Homo sapiens: one gene and its partners. The protein of the gene in region 4 purifies or fractionates together with the protein of the main gene of each other region. This does not show direct contact. Each region holds a gene or a part of one and is shown on either strand. Other genes may lie near its edges.

Region 1 (3,500 bases), on a different chromosome or scaffold from region 4:
TATATACCCAAAGGACTATAAATCATGCTGCTATAAAGACACATGCACATGTATGTTTATTGCGGCACTATTCACAATAGCAAAGACTTGGAACCAACCCAAATGTCCAACAATGATAGACTGGATTAAGAAAATGTGGCACATATACACCACGGAATACTATGCAGCCATAAAAAATGATGAGTTCATGTCCTTTGTAGGGACATGGATGAAATTGGAAATCATCATTCTCAGTAAACTATCACAAGGACAAAAAACCAAACACCGCATGTTCTCACTCATAGGTGGGAATTGAGCAATGAGAACACATGGACACAGGAAGGGGAACATCACACTCTGGGGACTGTTGTGGGGTGGGGGGAGGGGGGAGGGATAGCATTAGGAGATATACCTAATGCTAAATGACGAGTTAGTGGGTGCAGCACACCAGCATGGCACATGCATACATATGTAACTAACCTGCACATTGTGCACATGTACCCTAAAACTTGAAGTATAATAATAATAATAAAAAGAAAAAAAACAAAAAAAACAAATGAATGACTGAAAAATACACACTCTGCTATAATCACTAGAAAGAATTTTTTTTTTAATTTTTCTGAGACAGGGTCTTGCCATGATGATGCCCAGGATGGAGTGCAGTGGTGTGATCTTGGCTCACTGCAGCCTTGATCTCCTAGGCTCAGGCAGTCCTCCTGCCTCAGCCTCGCAAGCAGCTGGAAATACAGGCATGCACCACCATTTCCAGCTAATTTTAAAAAATTGTTGCCAGGCTCAGTGGCTAACACCTGTAATCCCAACACTTTGGGAGGCTGAGATGGGTGGATCACCTGAGGTCAGGAGTTCAAGACCAGACTGGCCAACATGGTGAAACCCTGTCTCTACTAAAAATACAAAAATTAGCTGGATGAGGTGGTGGGTGCTTATAAACCCAGCTACTCAGGAGGCTGAGGCAGGAGAAACGCTTGAACCTGGGAGGTAGAGGTTGCTGAGATCACACCACTCACTGCACTCCAGCCTGGGCGACTGTGCTCTCTGTGCTCTCTGAAACATGTGCTGTGTCCACTCAGGGTTAAATGGATTAAGGGCGGTGCAAGATGTGCTTTGTTAAACAGATGCTTGAAGGCAGCATGCTCGTTAAGAGTCATCACCACTCCCTAATCTCAAGTATCCAGGGACACAAACACTGCGGAAGGCCGCAGGGTCCTCTGCCTAGGAAAACCAGAGACCTTTGTTCACTTGTTTATCTGCTGAGCTTCCCTCCACTATTGCCCTATGACCCTGCCAAATCCCCCTCTGCGAGAAACACCCAAGAATGATCAATAAAAATAAATAAATAAATAAATAATTCCAAAAAAAAAACGCTGGGCATGGTGCCTCACACTTGTAATCCCAGCACTTTGGGAGGCCGAGGCAGGTGGACCACGAGGTCAGGAGATCGAGACCATCCTGGCTAACATGGTGAAAGCCCGACTCTACTAAAAATACAAAAATTAGCCAGGCGTGATGGCACACGCCTGTAGTCCCAGCTACTCAGGAGGCTGAGGCAGGAGAATCGCTTGAACCAAGGAGGCGGAGGTTGCAGTGAGCTGAGATCACGCCACTGCACTCCAGCCTGGGTGACAGAGCAAGACTCCATCTCAAAAAAAAAAAAAAAAAAAAAAAAAAAAAAATATATATATATATATATATATATATATTCCTAGCTTCCCAAATTGCTGGGTTTAAAGGTGTGGGCCACCACACCAGGCATAAAGACTTTTATAATTGGAAAATAACAATAATTTTTTTTTTCTTTTGAGACGGAGTTTCGCTCTTGTTGCCCAGGCTGGAGTGTGATGGCATGATCTCAGCTCACCACAACCTCCGCCTCCGGGGTTCAAGCTATTCTCCTGCCTCAGCCTCCCGAGTAGCTGAGATTACAGGCATGCACCACCACACCCAGCTAATTTGTATTTTTAGCAGAGACAGGGTTTCTCCACGTTGGTCAGGCTGGTCATGAACTCCCAACCTCAGGTGATCCACCCGCCTCAGCCTCCCAAAGTGCTGGGATTACAGGCATTAGCCACTGCACCCAGCCGAAAATAATAATGATTTTTAAAACTGGACGCACTGGCTCACACCTGTAATTCCAGCACTTAGGGAGATCGAGGTGGGCAGATCACTTGAAGCCAGAGTTCAACACAAGCCTGGCCAACATGGCAAAACTCTGACTCTACTAAAAGAAATACAAAAATTAGCCAGGTGTGGTGGCACACACCTGTAATCCCAGCTACTCGGGAGGCTGAGGCACAAGAATCGCTTGAACCCAGGAGGCAGAGGCTGCAATGAGCCAAGATTGTGCCACCGCACCAGAGCAAGACTGTCTCCAAAAAATAATAAAAAAATAATTTTTTAATTAAAAATAAAGATCCATCTTTTTACTTTTTTTTTCCTAGCTAGGATTTGAACCTATATCCTTTTACTTTATTTTGAAGGGTACTGTGGGGAAAGAGGGACAAATATGCTGTTTTAACTTCCTATTCCCTATTAAAGTTTTCCCAAAGCATCTAAACTTCAATCTAAGAATCATTATCATGTGTTCTTTTGGAAAACTTTATTTTGTTATAATAACATTGTTACTAACAACTGGCATATACAGCACCTAGTGCTGTTCTAAATGCTTTATACATATTAACTAATTTAGTTCTTACAACAACTGTATGGTATTTTACAGATGAGGAGAGGCACAGAGAGACTAAGTAACTTGCCCAAGTTGTATAGCTAGTAAGCAGGGGTGCTGGAATTTGAACCAGGCTGCTTGGCTCCAGGACTCAGTGCCACTATGCTGCTATTCAAAAGTCTGGGGAGAGATATTTTTCTGTCCTGTTTTCAGTGGTCGCCTAGAATAAAATACTCCAATTTTCTCTGCAAATCAAATGTGCTTATTAATCCTCTCCAACTCAGCAAAATTTCAGATGCTTCATTATACTATAGGTATATATACCTGTGATCTATTCTAGAGAGTAGAAATAAGTGATGAAATCATGAAATATAAAATTTGCTTCAGCTCATTTTAAAGAAACACAACTTCAGGTCAGGCACAGTGGCTCCCGCCTATAATCCCAACATGTTGGGAGGCCAAGGTGGGCAGATCACCTAAAGTCAGGAGTTCGAGATCTGCCTGGCCAACATGGTGAAACCCCATCTCTACTCAAAATACAAAAATTAGCCGGACGTGGTGGCACACACCTGTAGTCCCAGCTACTCGGGAGGCTGAGGCACGAGAATCGCTTGAACCCGGGAGGTGGAGGCTGCAGTGAGCCAAGATTGCACCACTGCACTCCAGCCTGGGCCACAGAGTGAGACCCTGCCACAAAAAAAAAGTAAAAAATTAAACTCATTAGTCAAGCATGCTAGATATTTATAAGTCCTAGTTATCCTTGACTATGTAAAACCCAGTATTATCATACATTAAATATCAGACACATATTACATGTAGCAATCAATCTTAAATGAAG
Region 2 (3,005 bases), on a different chromosome or scaffold from region 4:
GGGAAGTCTCTCTCCCCATCCCTCCTCTCAGTTACCATGAGGATGGGCAGTTTCTTCCCTTTCCGTTCTTCACTTTCCTCTTCTTAAACATAAAGAGATTTCTGGGTGGGGTGGCTCATGCCTGTAATCCCAGCACATTGGGAGGCCGAGGCGGGCAGATCACGAGGTCAGGAGGTCGAGACCATCTTGGCTAACACGGTGAAACCCCGTCTCTACTAAAAATACAAAAAATTAGCCGGGCGCAGTGGCGAGCGCCTGTAATCCCAGCTACTCGGGAGGCTGAGGCAGGAGAATGGCATAACCCGGGAGGCGGAGTTTGCAGTGAGCCAAGATAGCGCCACTACAGTCCGGCCTGGGCAAAAGAGCAAGACTCCGTCTCTAAAAAGAAAAAGAAAAAGAAAAAAAAAACATAAAGAGATTTCCCTTCTTCCTGCAGCTCTGGATGGACAAGGAAAAAGAGGAAAGCATGAAAGAAACCCTGCGGATAAGAAGGTAAACTGTCATGAGGGCAAGGGCACTAAGAGACATGAAGATGGGAAGGTCTGGTCCCTAGCAGCCCACAGCCCGCTGTCTCAGTCCCACAGATAACACAGGCAGGCTCTCTTCTGCCTCACAGACCACGAATTCATAAACACTATCACTACAGTGACCTGAGCAAGAAGTCAGCTTCCCTTTCAAAAGGTAAACACAGAGACATCGGGGTTTCAGCAGTGCAGAGCTCTGGGAGAAGCCCTGAGTCCTCTCTCCACCTGGGGGATTGCCTCCACCTCTGAGCATCCATGGAGACCAGGGACCATAACCAAAACCATGCTTTGTTAGTCCCCTTGAATAATGACACATGTTTACAAAACTCAGGTTGATGATCTACAATCCAAATGAAAAGAATGAAGAGTTTTACTAAGCCCCAAACTCCCCTTGCCTAAGGAGTTACTTTCTTCCCCAGTGAGCTGGGTGAACTGTTCAAGCACCTTTGTCGGGCTCCCTTTCCTCTAAGTTCCCTGCCTCTCTCTACCTTCTGGCTTCAAGGACAAATGCCAGTAATGCCTAACTCTGTACTCGTCCAGACATCCCAAATCTTCCCAAAGCCATTCTGATGTGAGACATGAGCTGCAGGCCTGGTTCATAACTCATTAATAAGTGAGGGGATTGTCAACCTAGAGCACCAATGAATGATCTAGCCCATGTAGCTCAATACTGGATTCACATTAGAATCACCTGGGGAGCTTTTTAAACTGCAGGTGCTCAGGCCCCACCCACTCCCAGAGATTCTTTTTAATTGGTCCAAGGTAGGACTTGACCATCTGGGCTTTTGTTTTTCTTTGTCTTTTCTTTTCTTTTCTTTTTTGGTTTAAGCCTCTCAAATGATTGCAAGATACAAGTAGAATGGAGAAGCATTAATTCAGCCCTTCTAGGTTTGAGTTACTCACTCTGCCCACCTCTAGAGCATTCTATGGCAGGGAGATTAAAGTGTCTCCTAACTATGCAGTCACTGATAAAATAAGAATTAGCACATTCTCACTAAATGAACCTGACTTTAAGGCACAAGTATAGATTCCTGAAAAAGTTCTAAGCTGAACCTGTACAAATGGAATCATTTTAAACACACCATTTACTGTCACACAGACTCCCTGATACTTTAGTGTGTGCACATGTGAAACCATTTTTTTGAAGTATGAAATAATTGCTCACCATTTTATCTATATAACTTTGGATTTTGGTGTCCTGAGCTCTCTAAAAACCGGTGTGTTTCTATAGTATTTGAATATTATGGGTAATAGTTTTGCAGAGTACAGTATGCTTATACTAAATTATAACAGCATATCCTCGTGGTAACCCTATTTGATAGGCAGAAAGCTTGTACACTGACCCTGAAAAAGCCATCTGATAATTCTTGATTAAGCAAATTTAACTCCCTGTGTCCCAGGTGAGGGAGGCAGAACTGTTTGATTTTTACCTCCTTCCTTGCTTCCCTTATTCCCCAGGTTAGGCGAGCCAGAGGATTGTGCTGGCATCGTGTCTTTCCTGTGCTCTGAAGATGCCAGCTACATCACTGGGGAAACAGTGGTGGTGGGTGGAGGAACCCCGTCCCGCCTCTGAGGACCGGGAGACAGCCCACAGGCCAGAGTTGGGCTCTAGCTCCTGGTGCTGTTCCCGCATTCACCCACTGGCCTTTCCCACCTCTGCTCACCTTACTGTTCACCTCATCAAATCAGTTCTGCCCTGTGAAAAGATCCAGCCTTCCCTGCCGTCAAGGTGGCGTCTTACTCGGGATTTCTGCTGTTGTTGTGGCCTTGGGTAAAGGCCTCCCCTGAGAACACAGGACAGGCCTGCTGACAAGGCTGAGTCTACCTTGGCAAAGACCAAGATATTTTTTCCCGGGCCACTGGGGAATCTGAGGGGTGATGGGAGAGAAGGAACCTGGAGTGGAAGGAGCAGAGTTGCAAATTAACAACTTGCAAATGAGGTGCAAATAAAATGCAGATGATTGCGCGGCTTTGAATCCAATTGACCTGTTCATTTCTCAGTGTTGGGTGCTTAGCTGAGCAGAGAGCAGAAGTCTATTCAGGCTGGATCTCTGGATCCCCCAGCCCTCCTCCCTGTCTCCAGAACTTGAGCGTGATGTTCACGGGTGGAGGTGTCTGCAGAGCTGCCAGCTGGAAGGAAGGTGGCACGGGAACTCCCAGGACGCCACGGGAATCCCCGAGGCAGCGCGAGCCCGGAGAGAGTGGGGAAGGATGAACTCTCTAACACCTCCCCGCCCCTTGCCTCCCAGATCAGGCCAGGTCCTCTCCCCGCATGGCCCTACGACCCGAGTTCCCTCCCGAGTCAGCAAGTACAAGCTGGATGGGTCCTGAGCCGGTGGGGAATAGAGAAAGGCCCTGCAAGGTACCCAGGCCCACAAACAAAAGCAATGGGTTCTGCCCACGGGCCCGAGGATTCAGTAGAAGGAAAGTGGGGACGCTGTCCCCCGCCCCAAAGGCACTGACACTGGGCGACACACGCTG
Region 3 (3,500 bases), on a different chromosome or scaffold from region 4:
AAAACAGCCCAGCTGAAAAATTAGGCCATGCTGCCGAGCACACTACTTATTTTTTATGACTAAGATTAAGCTGACAACCATGCAAAACATTGCAAACCTGTGTCGGCTGCAGATTTAATACCTCACCTAGCCCACACAAATAATTCATGCTTCTGCATCGATGTCCAGAAGAAACAAATCAGCAGAAAACTGGGTTCTTGTGTGTGTGTGTGTGTGTGTGTGTGTGTGTGTGTGTGTGCACGCGCATGTGTGTGTGTGTGTATAGCAGCCGCGTTTCCATCGAAGCAGCATGCCGGAAATACCCAAGCTCCAGGACTGCAAATCTTGCATTTTGCAATTTTTTTTTCTCTTAAAAGATTAAAGTACAGTTTCAAATGATTGAAGGTTGGTGGGAGGTGTAAATGTGGGCACTTGTCACATTAATTCTTCAGATGATTAAGTTCTTTTCCATTTCTTTAAGGCTGTTTGCAGTTGGGTTTGATGTCCTGGTTCTGGGTGAGTGTGTTGTGGCAGTTACCAAGGTGACTTTAGCTGACTTTCAACAATTTATTTTTCCCTCCAGCTTGAGACGTCTCTAGCCCTGTGTGCTGTTGATTCTTTTCTGCAAGCCCCCACCCCACCTCCCATTGCTATTCATGAGCATTTTTGCCTGCACCATAGAGGCTGGGATTCTCTAGCACGCCCTGCCTGGACAAGCTAGGCCTCAGCCCCTCTCAGGAGGACAGTAGTGTGTCTGGAGGCAGGAACCGGTGGTCAAAGATGGCACAGGGGAGTGATTGTGAGAGTCACCCCCTGGTCCTTTCGCTTAAACTCACTCTGAGCCCTTCGGCTCGTCACCTCACCTCCCTAAGCCTCAGTTACCTCCTCTGTGAAAGAAGGCTTGACAACAGAGCCTACCTCGTGCTTGCTGGGAGGAATCAGCGAGTGAACCTATGGCCTTAGCAGAGGGTTGGCGCAGAGTAAGGGCTCAGGAAACATGGCTCAGGAAACACTGCTTCCTGAGTTCTGCTCTTGTTTGGGCCCTGAGGGCACCCTATGTCTCCACTGAGCCCTCACCTGTGACTGCTGCCTCCCTCAGAAGGAAGGGAGGTGCAGTGGCCCTGGTGGAAGGGAAAGAGAGTTGGTCGGAAGTCTGAGGCTTCGATCAGAAGTCTGACGCACGGTGAGGGGGGACGCGTCACCCACTCTCTTTTGTAAAGGAAAGAGGGAGATTAAACAACCTCAGAGTTTCCTTCCAGTCCTGAATACTGTGACCCTCTTGGCCATAGCATTTGTCTCCTTCACAGGTCTTGCGCAAAGGCGAAGCCAGGGGAAAAGGCAGTTTTAGAGCTGGCTTTAGGAAAGCAGAGGAAGGGACCGCTTTGTGAAGGAACAGTCAGATCCAGGAGTGAGTCCTCACAAGGAGAAGGCCAGCAGGCAGGCACGGCCCATGACCTCAGGGGCACGTCTAACCCACTGCCGCCACAGGGCCATCCTCTGTCTTTGGCCTGCGGACCCTACACCTTCCCCTGGGGAGGTGCCCTGCCTGTTGGGGTGCCACCCTGGCTGCAGGCCCCAGCACCTAGCCCCGCAACGTGTGAGGAGGTTGGGCCTGCCCCTCAGTGGCTGTCTGGCTGTCATCCTGGGTGGCTCCTGCCTGCCACTTGAATGATAAATAACTAGAGCTTCTCACCCAGTTTTTGATGGACACTTGGGGAATTGTTCTGAGATTCACAGCCCAAACCAGGATCCGGCCTTTTGAATGGGATCAGTGGGTAACTCTTATTTCTGGCTGAGGCAGATTTGAGAGGTTGTCAGTGGGGGCAGCTGAATTTGAAAGAGCAAATCTTAGAATGCAAAGGGACCCTGTGTCCCAGCCGTGGGCCGCACTTTTGGTGGGGAGCAGGCAGGAGGGAGTGTGGGGCAGCAGTGACAGCTCACCGTGCCAAGGCCACAGTCAGGAGGAATCTGGTACAGGCTCCTGGGGCCTTAAAGCCCAGCAGGGCGGGGGCCCGGTTCTGCTTTCCAGCCAAGCCCACTGGTCTGACTCGTAAGAGCCCAGCTTGTACTCAGCAGTACAGATTGTATCATCATCTGGTTAGATGAAGGGTGTGAATGTCCCTGCAGCTCCTGGCTGTTGGCGGAATGTGCATCCTCAGAGCCTTCAGGGTCAGCTGGACAGAAACTCTTGGAGCCGCATCTCATGGTGCTCAGAGCTAGGGCTCAGAGGCTCCAGGGCAGGAGAGGAAGGGCTCCCAGAAGCTCCTGCTGATCACAGGGAAAGACAAGCCACTGTGCCATAAACTTTAATATAGAATGTTGGGGCCAGGCACGGTGGCTCATGCCTATAATCCCAGCACTTTGGGAGGCCGAGGTAGGCAGATCACCTGAGGTCAGGAGTTTGAAACCAGCCTTGCCAACATGGTGAAACCCTGTCTCTACTAAAAATACAAAAAAATTAGCTGGACATGATGGCAGGTCCCTGTAATCCCAGCTACTTGGGAGGCTGAGGCAGGAGAATTGCTTGAACCTGGGAGGCGGAGGTTGCAGTGAGCCAAGATCGTGCCACTGCACTCCAGCCTGGGTGACACGGCGAGATGCTATCTCAAAAAAAAAAAACGAAACAAAAAAACAAAAACCAAAGGCTGGGTGCAGTGGCTCACGCCTATAATCCCAGCACTTTGGGAGGCCAGGACGGGCAGATCACCTGAGGTCAGGAGTTCGAGACCAGCCTGGCCAACATGGTGAAACCCCGTCTCTACTAAAAAGACAAAAATTAGCTGGGTGTAGTGGTGGATGCCTGTGATCCCAGCTACTCGGGAGGCTAAGGCGGGAGAATTGCTTGAACCCAGGAGGCGGAGGTTGCAGTGAGCTGAAATCGCACCACTGTGCTCCAGCCTGGGTAATAGAACGAGACACCATCTCAATTAAAAAAAAAAAAAAAATAGAATGTTGGCCAAAGATGCAGGCTTTATAGAATCAGACCTGCCCGAGACTGGATCTCAACTCTGCCCACTCCCTGGCTGTGCAACCTGTGCAAATTACTTAGCCTCCCTGTCCCCAGTTCCTCCTCTGTAAAAAGAGACAATGGTGGCAGCCACCTCTTGGGGGCATTGTGAGGAGTAGCCAGTCAGTGAGAAGTGCTTGGTGCAGTGGCTGGCGCTCGCCAGGCATATACAGAATGATGGCTGTCACCATCATTATCATCAGTCACCATTATTGTCTTTATTACTCAGGAGCCCAGCTGGAGACTCCCATCTTGCTCCTCCCTGAGCTTTTCACCTTGTGCCGAACCTTTTCCTGTGCTTGCTTCACAGGAGCCGCAAAGACAGCCTGGAAAGTGACAGCTCCACGGCCATCATTCCCCATGAGCTGATTCGCACGCGGCAGCTTGAGAGCGTACATCTGAAATTCAACCAGGAGTCCGGAGCCCTCATTCCTCTCTGCCTAAGGTGAGCGAGACAGCCCTGCCACACAGTTTACCCCACAGCACCCAGCTCAGCCTCCAGGGGGCACTTCAG
Region 4 (3,939 bases):
GGAGAAGGGACAAGGAATGCTGCCGCAGAACATCTCCCATTTCTGCTATCCTGCTAGTGCCACCCTACAGGGGCAGGACAATACCCTCCAATGCGTGCCCGCCTTCCACATCCGGCAGAGTACTACTAATTGGCAGCACCTAGTCCACATCCAGAACTCTAACTGCAAATGAGGCTGGGAAACATGGCGGTTAGCTTTGGGACCTCCCTAGCCAGAAGGAAGGTGCAGCGAGGGTGGAGCGAGTGAGATGCATGTTCAGTGGTCCATCTTGGCAACCTTTATAGCAACAAAATGGAGACAATTAAATGTCCAACAGTTTACCCCTACAACAGAATTCTATGCCACCTTGGAGAGGATGATGTCATCTGTAATTAGTGATAGGAGAAAACTTCAAAATACAGCGCTAAGTTTTTAAATTTTTTTTAAAGCAGCACAACAGAGGTTACTATATGATTTTATTTTTATTAAAATAATTTTGAAAGATGCAGAGGAAACAATACTAGCAGGACGAACACCGTAATAATGGCTACCGTAGGTGAAGAGATTACAGGTGATATTTTTCTTCTTTTTTCATCCTTTCCTGTGTTTTCCAAGCTTTCTACACTGTGCATACATTCTTTTTGTCCTTAGGACAAAAATGTACTTTGAAAAATGCCCAAATATAAAATCTTCTTGAAGGAACTGAAGAAAGGAGCAGTGAAAGTGGAGGACAGAAATTAGTGAATCCTGGACAAAAAAAGTGAGGGAGAGGCGAGGCAGAGAAGGGGTTAAGGGGAGTCTCAAGGATGGCAGTCGATTAAGCAGCGTCTTGCAGCGGGGAGAAATGCAAAGTGTAGTTGGGGTTCGGTCTCCGAAAACTTTGCTGTGTGACCTGGGGAAGCCCCTGCCCCTCTCTGGGTATCTCTGTTTCCGCTCCCAAACCAGTGCCTTAGGAGCCTAGATCTGAGCAACGTGGACACTGGGCTTGCGGAGACCCGAGGGAGGGAGCGCTGAAGCGGTGCGGGCTGCCGGGGGTAGAGGGGCGGGGACCGGGAAAGACCGGGCGGGGCGAGGGAGGAGCGGCCTTGGCCGGCGACAGGACGTAGGCAGCGCCCCAGGCGCAGGCGGAGCCTCATTGGCCGCTGAGCCCCGGGCTGCGCGGAGGCGGGACCTGCGGCCAGCCCTGGGCGGCCATGTGGACAGAGCTGGGAGGGCCGGAACCAGAACCCAAGCGTGATCCTGAACCGGAGCCCGAGCCTGCTGCAGGTAACTAACGCTGGTCTCCCCTCGGCTCCCTCGGGAAGCCGCAGCTCCTGGCTCCGCGTGGGGGCTTTCCTCTCTGGGCCGCGGCGTCCGCATCTGGGGGCTGGCCTTTCCGCCGTTGCACTGTAGGACTCTCTCCACGTCCCCTAATCCCATCCCCCGCCTCTGGGTGACGCTACAGGAGCCCCGAGGACACAGACGCCCCCAGACCTTACCACGTTAGCTCGACCTCAACACTCCTGCCCACTCGGCCCACTTCAACAGAGGGCCCCTGACCATAGCCCAGAGGCTTGGACAAGCCCAAAGGTTGCGCCCTTTCCCCCGCAGAAGGGGTGAGGTGGGCGCCGCTGCAGTTCCCGCGGATAGAGAAGGTCCGGTCCTTCCCGCTGTGGGTGAACTGTAAAAAATTGCCTGTATTCAGGAGGATATGCAAAGCTAGGTTTGTGGAAGTCTGGGGTGAGGCTCCTATACTTTCTTGCTGTGTGTCCTCGGTGAGTCCCTGAACCTCTCTGATGCCCAGCCTTCTTCCAGAATGGGGGTCATCATCAACCCTGACCACCCAGGGACTGCAGAGAGGCTTGGCAAATTTCCCGTGAGAAGACAGCCTGCAAACTGTAAAGCATGATGCTCTGTGAGCTGTGATCTTCCTATCAGCAAGTGGAGGCCCCAGCAAGAACCCCATATAGGCCCCAAGAGTAGGAACGGCCTTGGTGTGGCTGCAAAGGTTTGCCAGCCTTGGCCTATGACCACCTCTCCTGACTGCTTCACCCCTCCAATCCTTACCCCATGGGTTGGTGACTCCCCTTTCCCCTACCTCCTTTTGGTCTCCTCACCCTCAGAGCCAGGCCTGTTGGTGGCAAGGGGGCTGTGTCCCAGCATATGGCAAAGTCCTGAGCTAAATGGAACCCTGGGCACCCCTGGCAGATCTGCTGACTCAGCTTCCCCCTGTGGGATATGATGAGGTTTCTCTTCAAATAATCTGATCAATCTTTTATTCTTTAATTCTTAGTATCCCCCCCTTTTTTTTTTTCATTTTTCTCCTTTTTGCCTTTGTTAGATGCCCAGGCATGCCACAGTACCAAGCGTTATCAGTACCAGCTCACATTCCTTTGCTTATTTGGAAAGAAGACTAACTTTCTAGCTCATTACAGACACCCTTTCCCCTTTCTCTCCACTTTCTTTTACGTGCCCACTCTATCTAAAATAAATCAAATGTTTAGCCAACCGGGATTAGTTTAGATTGTACGACCTGACCCCAGCCAATGGGGAAAGGGTACAGGGGCAGGACTTGCATCAGGAATAAAGGCTCTCGTGCCCCTTTGTTCAGGTGTGCTCTCATGGCAACTGGCCAAGGAGGCATCCCTCTGCGCAGAAGTAAAATTGCTTTGCTAAGAATCCTGTGTTCGAGTGTTCAATTTCCTTAGGATTTTGAGCATTATTCCTAACACCCGCAAGGGGAAGGGAAACTTTCTTGGTCAGCATTGATTATTATTATTTTTTTTAGATACAGTCTTGTTCTGTTACCCAGGCTGGAGTGCAGTGGCACAATCATGGCTCACTGCAGCCTCAACCTCCTGGGCTCAGGTGATTGCCCCCACCTCAGCCTCCCAAGCAGCTAGAACTACAGGCATGCACCACTATGCTCGGCAAATTTATTTTTGTTTTTTTGTAGAGACACGGTTCTTGCTATGTGCTCAGGCTGGTCTCAAACTCCTGGCCTCAAGCAGTCCTTCCACTTCGGCCTACCAAAGCGTTACCAGCGTAAGCCACCACGCCCATCACATTGATTTTTATGGGGCCGGGGACCTACATGGAGCCTTGCTTTCCTGATTGAGTTTTTTGTTCCTCTCCCTGCCCAGGGGTGGAGGGTGAGAGGCTGGGGGTGAAGGGACAGGCAGGTGCAATTCCATTTTACCGCTGGGCGGAGCAAGACTCATGAGACATCAAAGGCAGAGAGATTCAAATTCTGACTGAAGAATAACTGCTTCAACTAATCTGGGAACACTACACTCTGTTTAATTTTCATTTAATATGTATTATATGCCGTTTAAGTTTTATAACAGTAGTTGTTTTAACGAAGTCTACACTCTTCAGAGTTGTAGCTTTTCTTCTCAGCTGCCTCCTGACTTGCTGCACCTCTGGGAAAGCTGAAAAGGGATGCTGAGACCTGTGGTTGGGGGATGCTGGGCTAGGTCAATTTCTGAGGCACGGCCAGTTCTGATGTCCTGAGTGGAGCTTGCCAGGGTTTTTATATGCAAGACATCATTCAACATAACCCCATGAGGCATTTCACATATGGGGGAACTGAGGCACAGAGGTGAAATGAAGCAAGTCCCTCTCAGAGAACAACCATCTCCAAGTCCCTTTGATTTCTACTCAAGTCTTAGGTCAATTCTTAGACAGCCTTTGTGGCAATTTCAGTGTTTTCTCAGTGTATCATTCAGTACTGTGTGTTGAGCCGCTGCTCTGTAGCAGGCATACCTCTAGGCTCGGGGACGTAGCAGTGAATGGAACAGAAAAATAAGTTCCTGTGCTCATGGAGCTTGCATTTTACTGGGGGGAGACAGACAAACATATAAGCCTGTAAAGATAGTATTTGGGATGTGAGATAGAGAAGGAGTAAAGCAGGGTAGCGGGGATAGAGAGTGTTGGGGTGGGAAGGGTTGCAATTTTTTAAAGGGTGGTCAGGGAAGGCCT

The links. Proteins that work in one complex are often made in the same cells at the same time.
Region 1: the proteins of ALDH1B1 (region 4) and AMBRA1 purify together in Homo sapiens (affinity purification with western blotting; 2 studies listed by BioGRID, with this or other methods). This does not show direct contact.
Region 2: the proteins of ALDH1B1 (region 4) and DHRS4 purify together in Homo sapiens (affinity purification with mass spectrometry; 3 studies listed by BioGRID and IntAct, with this or other methods). This does not show direct contact.
Region 3: the proteins of ALDH1B1 (region 4) and SUFU purify together in Homo sapiens (affinity purification with mass spectrometry; 3 studies listed by BioGRID and IntAct, with this or other methods). This does not show direct contact.

What each region holds. Positions count from the first base shown.
Region 1 is NC_000011.10:46,584,024-46,587,523, forward strand, and holds part of AMBRA1 (activating molecule in BECN1-regulated autophagy protein 1), read right to left. Parts: intron 3,422-3,500; exon of another isoform or gene 3,232-3,421; intron 1-3,231. UniProt on the Homo sapiens protein: Substrate-recognition component of a DCX (DDB1-CUL4-X-box) E3 ubiquitin-protein ligase complex involved in cell cycle control and autophagy.
Region 2 is NC_000014.9:23,966,775-23,969,779, forward strand, and holds the end of DHRS4 (dehydrogenase/reductase SDR family member 4), read left to right. Parts: intron 1-35; exon of another isoform or gene 36-297; intron 298-436; coding exon 437-492; coding exon of another isoform or gene 493-496; exon of another isoform or gene 497-909; intron 910-1,982; coding exon 1,983-2,097; 3' UTR 2,098-2,505; downstream 2,506-3,005. UniProt on the Homo sapiens protein: NADPH-dependent oxidoreductase which catalyzes the reduction of a variety of compounds bearing carbonyl groups including ketosteroids, alpha-dicarbonyl compounds, aldehydes, aromatic ketones and quinones.
Region 3 is NC_000010.11:102,611,972-102,615,471, forward strand, and holds part of SUFU (suppressor of fused homolog), read left to right. Parts: intron 1-3,296; coding exon 3,297-3,431; intron 3,432-3,500. UniProt on the Homo sapiens protein: Negative regulator in the hedgehog/smoothened signaling pathway. Down-regulates GLI1-mediated transactivation of target genes. Down-regulates GLI2-mediated transactivation of target genes. Part of a corepressor complex that acts on DNA-bound GLI1.
Region 4 is NC_000009.12:38,391,563-38,395,501, forward strand, and holds the start of ALDH1B1 (aldehyde dehydrogenase X, mitochondrial precursor), read left to right. Parts: upstream 1-1,139; 5' UTR 1,140-1,245; exon of another isoform or gene 1,246-2,871; coding exon of another isoform or gene 2,872-3,003; intron 3,004-3,939. UniProt on the Homo sapiens protein: ALDHs play a major role in the detoxification of alcohol-derived acetaldehyde. They are involved in the metabolism of corticosteroids, biogenic amines, neurotransmitters, and lipid peroxidation.